Homo sapiens: one gene and its partner. The protein of the gene in region 1 purifies or fractionates together with the protein of each later gene. This does not show direct contact. Each region holds a gene or a part of one and is shown in the gene's direction. Other genes may lie near its edges.

Evidence for each region.
Region 2: the proteins of DEFB131A (region 1) and LRRC8A purify together in Homo sapiens (affinity purification with mass spectrometry; one large-scale study listed by BioGRID and IntAct). This does not show direct contact.

Annotation. Positions count from the first base shown.
Region 1 is NC_000004.12:9,443,255-9,447,213, forward strand, and holds the start of DEFB131A (beta-defensin 131A precursor), read left to right. Parts: upstream 1-1,159; 5' UTR 1,160-1,279; coding exon 1,280-1,337; intron 1,338-3,959.
Region 2 is NC_000009.12:128,885,133-128,888,632, forward strand, and holds part of LRRC8A (volume-regulated anion channel subunit LRRC8A), read left to right. Parts: exon of another isoform or gene 1-256; intron 257-882; 5' UTR 883-989; intron 990-3,500. UniProt on the Homo sapiens protein: Essential component of the volume-regulated anion channel (VRAC, also named VSOAC channel), an anion channel required to maintain a constant cell volume in response to extracellular or intracellular osmotic changes.

The DNA of each region.
Region 1 (3,959 bases):
TCTGAAGTATTATAGAAGTAGCACCAAGAAGAAGCCATGGAAGAAAGAGAACTTCCTTCTTGGTACTGAGAAAAGTTACTTCACCTGTAGTGACACCATCTAGAAAGGAATGAAGGTCAAGTAAGACCACGAATGTGCATGTACTTTGCAGTTTCTGAAGTTGATATTCTGGCCAGACGTGGTGGCTCACCCCTGTAATCCCAGCACTTCGGGAGGCCGAGGCGGGTGGATCACTTGAGGCCAGGAGTTCGAGACCAGCCTGACCAACATGGCAAGACCCTATTGCTACTAAAGGTACAAAACTTAGCGAGGCATGGAGACGTGTGCCTGTAATCCCAGCTACTCAGGATGCTGAGGCAGGAGAATCACGTGAACCCGGGAGGCAGAGGTTGCAGTGAGCCAAGATCGCACCACTGCGCTCCAGCCTGGGCAACAGTGTGAGACCCTGTCTCTAAATAAAAAATAAATAAATAAATAAAGTTTACTCATACCCTCTTTAAGCATTCCCTACGGCACCCAAAGTATTCTGGTGTTTATGTTCATTTCCTTAGTGTCTAAGAAGTAATTTGTGCCTCTTTGCCAGAAATATGCTCGTGTTGCATTGCCGTTTCTTTGTATATATTACTTGCTTTCCGAAGTGTATTATGGGTTCCCTAAGGCCCACTTTTCTTTCTTTAATTCCTCTCATATTACACATAACTGATGTGCAAACAATTTGTGTGAACTTAGATTTCAATAGAAAAATTAGTTTATCTCATTTGATCGATTGGACAGAAAGATAATCAAATAAAAGTTGTTCTGTATCTCACTAATCTGTTTATAATTTCATATTTAATTCCATTGCTTAAGCATGCTAACACACGGTGCCAAAATATTAATAAATAGGCATGCTCTTGTATTACGTGCTTCTTCCTATTATCAGAAAAATAAAATGAATGCTTTTCCTCTATAACTGCTTCCTTAACTTTTACAGTTCCTCCAGAATGCATAAGACAATGCTGATATTTCAAGTCTCTCTCCTGCCTTTGCCATGGCTGTGCTTTCTACTACCTTTGCACACACCCTCTTGACCTTTGATAAATGTACTTTAAATGACTGATAGTCGTGATGATTGCATGCTTTCTCCTGATATAAAATCTCCTTGAAACACAGAAATGTTCTTGCTCCTGAAAGGTTCAATAATCACTCAACAACTCACCTCTTCAGAGAACTGAATGTACACAGAAGTCCTCTTCATCTCAGCTACTGATTCTCTCTAACCTGCTTTACCTATTCAACCATGAGGGTCTTGTTTTTTGTCTTTGGAGTCCTTTCCTTGATGTTCACAGTTCCTCCAGGTAAGACAGAAACTTTTTTATTCCAAAGTTCTAAAAATATAAGTAAAAGAAAATGCAAGGTCTTTCAAGAGTCTGAAAATAAAATAGGCATGGGCAGATTTTACTGTACCATGAAGGCTGCTCAGAGGATTGAAGAGTTGATACTAAAGAAATAAATAAGGTGGTTCACTGCAGTGATTTAACCTATGATAAACTCACTTGAGGCCGGGCACAGTGGCTCATGTCTATAATCCCAGCACTTGGGGAGTTTGAGGTGGGTGAGCACAGGAGTTCTAGACCGACCTGGTGGGGGCAACAGGGTGAAACCCCATCTCTCCAAAAAAAAAAAAAAAATACAAAAAATTAATCAGGTATAGTGGCGCGTGTCTGTGGTTCTGGCTACTCAGGAAGCTTAGGCAGGATCGCTCGAGCCTGAGATGTCAAGGCTGCATTCAGCTTAGGTCATGCCACTGCACACCAGCCTGGGCAACAGAGTGAGACCCTGTCTCAAAAAATAATAATAATAAAAAATAAACTTACTTGAGAGTTATGTTTGATCAAAAGATGGTGAGAGGATACACACAGAACACAGGAAATTTAAAGAATTGGAAAAAGGAAAAGTGAATGATGACTAGAAGAAGGGCTAGAGGTGAAGAGGTGGATACTCCACCATAATCCTTGGTTCACAGGATAAATTCACCACTGATCCAGGCAAGGACCTAGCCTCTGTGTTCCTTTAAAGTTGAATAAAACTCATATGATATCATTTAATGTATATGGAAATTACTTTTTGTATGGTGAGAGTTAAGATTCCACCTTAATTTTTAACCACATAACTAGCCAATTATATATAAGCATATTAATTAAATAATCAATACGACTTTCCCACATTAATTTTAAAATTCATCAATACCCCATAATAAAAACATATTAAACTGCGGTTCATACCTGAGATTTAGATTACTGGTTGACTTATTGATCATTTCTGAAGCACATTTTAATACTTAACAATTCAAGATTCCCTCATTTATATAATACTTCATGATTCAAGATTCCCTTATTTATATAATTATAAATAATTATGCCTTTCCTCCATGAATGTTAGTGGGTTTTTTATATTTTTATGAGATACAATTTACCATAAAATTCATTGCCTTAAAGTGTTCTATTCAGTGGTTATCAGTGTATTCTTAAAATTGTGCACCCCTCACCATTATCTAATTCCAGAATATGTTTATAACCGCAAGAAGAAATCTCTCCTCCTCCCAGTCCCTAGCAACCACTGATCTAATTTTTGTCTCTATGTATATTCCTATTCTGGACATTTACTATGAACAGAATAAGAAATATGTGATCCTTCATGTCTGCCTTCTTTTATTTAGCATAATGTTTTCAAGATTCATCCATGTTGTGGCATAGATTCGTACTTCATTCCTTCATTCAGTGGTCATCAGTATATCCCACTCTAAGAATCCACTGATACTCACTAAATGGAACACTCTAAAGGAATGAATTTTATAGTAAATTCTATCTCAATAAAAATATAAAACACCAACATTCATGGAGGAAAAGTATAATTCTGTATAATTATATAAATGATAGAATCTTGAAATAAATTTTAAAATGTGCTCGGAGGTAATATGAGCCTCAGAAAAGATAAATAAGTCAATTGATAATCTAAATCTCAGGTATAAACCACAGTTTAATATGATTTATTATAAAGTATTGGTGGATTTTAAAATGAATTTGGGAAAGTTAGATTGATTATTGGTGTTGGTAAAAAAAAATTCTTCGTATGGATTATTTAGCATATGGTTGTTTATAACAGACTAATGATCCATTGTATTTCTTTTATATCAGTTGTAATGTCTCCTGTTTTATTTCCGATTTTATTTATTTGGCATTCTCTCTTTTGTTCTTGGTTAGTCTAGCTAGCAGTTTATAAAGTCTGTTTATCTCTTCCAAAAGTCAACTTTTTGTTTCATTAATTCTTTGCATTTTTTAAATCTTGAATTCACTTAGTCCTGCTCTGATTTTTATTATTTCTTTCCTTCTCCTAAGTTTGGATTTCATTTTTTCTTGTTTTTCTTGTTCCTTGAGGTGCATAGTAGCTTGTTTATAATATTACCATGTTCTTGCAGTAGGCATTTATTGCTATAAAATTCTCTCTTAGCACTGTCTTTGTTGTATTCCATAGGTTTTGGTATGTTGTGTTTCCATTTGCATATATTTCAAGAACATTTGTTATTTTCTTCTTTGTTTTTTCATTGACTCAATGGTTGTTCAGAAGCATGTTGTTTAATTTCCATGTTATCTGTATCGTTTCCAAAGTTCTTCCTAGTATTCATTTCTAGTTCTATTCTATTTTTGTCTAGAATATACTTGATATAATGTTGATTTTTCAAAATTTGTTGAAACTTGTTTTGTGTCTTAACATATGGTCCAGCCTGGAGAATGTTCTATGTGATGAGGAGAAGAATGTGTACTCCACAGCTATTGGATGAAGTGTTCTGTAAATGTCTGTTAAGTCTATTTGGTCTGCGGTACAGATTAAATTCAATGATTATTTGTTAGCTTTCTACCTAGATGATCTGTTCAATGCTGAAAGTGGGATATTGAAGCCCTCAGTTATCATGATGTTGA
Region 2 (3,500 bases), on another chromosome or scaffold:
CCCTACCCTGCCACTCCCATGCACAGTTCTGCACAGTGTCTGGCGCATATGGAGTAGATGCTCACCAGAGGCTGGTTGACTGTCGGAGATGATGGGTGGATTTGGTGTTTAAGTTGGAGTCTGGGCACTGGCTGGTCTCTGCCTGACCCAGCCACCCCACTGTGGCTCATCTCTTGCCACTTCCCCTCTCTGGCTCTGGATCTCGCCATGCCGAGCCCGCAAGCCTTCTCCAGATGCCATGTACTCTCTCCTCCAGGTAAACATGTGCTGTTCCTCCTGCCTGGAATGCTCTTTTTCCAGCTCCTACTCTTAGGAGTCAACTCAGACAACTCCTCCTCCAGAAAGCCTTCCCTGACCCCACTAGTCTGGGTCTAGTGCTTCTCCTGGCTCCCCCGCAGCAGAGCTCTGAGCTCTCAGACCGTCGCTACTGACTTGGCACCTCCTCAGTAGACCAGGTTCTGGAGGGAGGTGCTCTGTCAGAACCTCTTTTGTCTGCCAGGCGCGGTGGCTCATGCCTGTAATCCCAATACTTTGGGAGGCCGAGGCGGGCAGATCCCTGGAGGTTAGGAGTTTGAGAGCAGCCTGGCTAACATGGGGAAACGCTGTCTCTACTAAAAATACAAAAAATTAGCCAGGCTTGGTGGTGCGCACCTGAAATCCCATCTACTCGAGAGGCTGAGGCAGGAGAATCACTTGAATGCGGGAGGCGGAGGTTGCAGTGAACCGAGATTGCACCACTATACAAAAAAAACCTCTTTTGTCACCCCAGAGCCCAGCCAAGGGCCTGCTACCAAGCAGGCTCTCAGGAAGTGCTGGCGGTGTGGCAGGTAACTGCGACAGTCACACATGTGCCTGCTGACGGCAGCTCTCGCTTCCTTGTAGGGAGGCAGCGTCCATGGAGCAAAAGGAATGCCAGGATCCTGCACAGGCAGACGCGGGCCAGCCTCAGCACCGACAGCCGACGCGCAGATAGCAGAGCCATCCTTGGGGTAAGGACTGGGCCCCTCTCCTTCTCAGCCAGCTCCAGCTCCAGTCAAGTGCCCTTCCCAGCCTGGGGAGCAAAGGGTAGCATCTCCATCCCCACAGTCCTTTGCTTTTCTTGCTGTAGGTCCAGGGTAGAGTGGCAGACAGCAGAATTACTCTCTTCCTCCTTCTCCCGCTGAGTAATGTGTGCTTGCCGCACTCATTGAATGCTGAGTTGTTTCATTGCAAACCTCTGTTTTTTCTCCTTCACCCCAGATCTTATCAGTCTGGGTCTTGCTAATGCAGCCTCATGACCACATTTCCCAAAAAGCGTGGACCACGTTTCCCAAGTGTGTTCCATGAGACACCAGTTTCTTCGGTCACAGTGGTTTGATAATTCCAGGAAACAAAGACTTCTTGTTATCCTTGCTGCAGGACTTATCAGAGTCTTGAATCAGAGCCGTCATCAGGATTGAGCTGATCACGATAAGGGAGCTAGCGACTCGTGTTTCCCCACACTTATTTGATCGTGTAGACATCTTTGGGGACTGGGATTCCTTGGCCTGTGCTTTGGAAAACAGTTCCCAGAGGCAGGAGAGTCCCTTTAGAACATTTGGAGGATTAAATATGTTGACATAGAGCAGGCAGTTGGCAGAGTGCATGTCCTAGAAGGTGGTCCCGAGTCATAGCTGGTGTGTGTATAGACGGCTGTGTAATTTGCCAGACATACTCAGGTCGGTGATCTCATTTGACCATTTGAGGATGCTTAGGCAGTGGCCATTATCTCCAGTTTACAGATGTGGAAACTGAGAATCAGAGTGAGGAAGCAGCTTGCCCAGACTCATCTGTAAAGAAGGCAAGGACATGCGGCTTGAATCCAGACCCTGGAATCCTGGGCCAGGGTCTTCTGTTGTCTGCCCTGAGGCCTTCCTGCCTTTATCTCTCACCTCAGTTTTTTGTGTGAAGGAAGGCCTGAGTCTCCCAGCCTGGATTTTAAAAGAAATAGTAATTTTTTTTTTTTGTAATTACCAACATAGTTGTATATTCATTATATGGTTTTATACTGTTTGGCTATTTTTGGGGGACAGGGTCTCACTCTGTTGCCCAGGCTGGAGTGCAGTGGCACCATCATGACTCACTGCAGCCTCGATCTCCAAGGCTCCAGCGATCCTCCTGCCTCAGCCTCCCAACTAGCTGGGACTGCAGGTGTGCACTACTGTGCCCAGCTAATTTTATTTATTTATTTATTATGGAGATAGAGCCTCTCTACATTGCCCAGGCTGGTCTCGAACTCCTGGGTTCAAGAGATGCTCCTGCCTTGGCCTCCTAAAGTGCTGGGATTATGGGTGTGAGCCACCATGCCAGACCTGTTTGGATCTTTAATGTCATCTAGGAAATGAGTCTCTGCTGATTCTCATCTTCAGAGGTGTGAATGGGAAGGGGTATATTCTTCCACATCTATTGTTACCATTTGCTTATTTTTATAAAAATCTGGTCATGTTTGAGTTGCTGATTCACAGTTTGCTTTTGTTTCATATAATGATATCCCCCGGACCTCTTTTTTTTTTGAGATGGAGTCTTTGTCACCCAGGCTGGAGTGCAGTGGCACAATCTCAGCTCACTGCAAGCTCTGCCTCCCGGGTTCACTCCATTCTCCTGCCTCAGCCTCCCGAGTAGCTGGGACTACAGGCGCCCGCCACCACGCCCGGCTAATTTTTTTTGTATTTTTAGTAGAGACGGGGTTTCACCATGTTAGCCAGGATGGTCTTGATCTCCTGACCTTGTGATCCGCCGCCTTGGCCTCCCAAAGTGCTGGGATTATAGGCATGAGCCACCGCGCCCGGCTCCCCTGGACCTCTTTCCCATGCAAGAGGTAGATAGAGCTGTGTGTGGTCCTGGCAGAATGCACACCCTTGAGCCCCCCTGGCCCCTCCCCCTCACATGCTGGGAGTTTTGAGCTGTTTGGGCATTTACAGCAGCAGAGGGAGGTCGGAAGTGCCTGGTGTGTGATTGTGTCGACTCTCCTGTTTATGGGATAAGGTCAGCCAACTCCTGGCTCTGCCCCATAGGAGTTTCCTGTTGGTTTTGAGGAACTCTGTCCCCTGGAGAGAGGGGAGGCCTGAGCTGTAGTCTTTCATGCTGGGCAGCGCTGAGCAGGAAGCAGCAGGTCCTGCTTGTCAGATCATAATTCCTCCTTTTTGCCAAGGATGGCGTGGAATGAACCGCATGGGCCGGCCTGAGGGGTTTTGGCCTCCACCCACCACCTGGGTTCAGGGGACACACATGAATCAAGCTGAGACAAATTGAGTCTGAGCCATTGTTCTCCTGAGCCCAGCCCTTCCTGGGGATAGGAAGGAACAGGCAGACCCTGACTCAGTTTACCCTTGCTGTATCTGGAGGAAGTGTTGGTTGTGGTCCTTTTGGCATGCTCCTTTCAAGTTTTAGTTCTGAGAGTGGGCAGGTGAGGAGCAGGAGGAGGGCCCACCCTGCCACCTGGGTCCAAAGATGCTCTCTTTTGGGGTATAGCTGACCTCAGG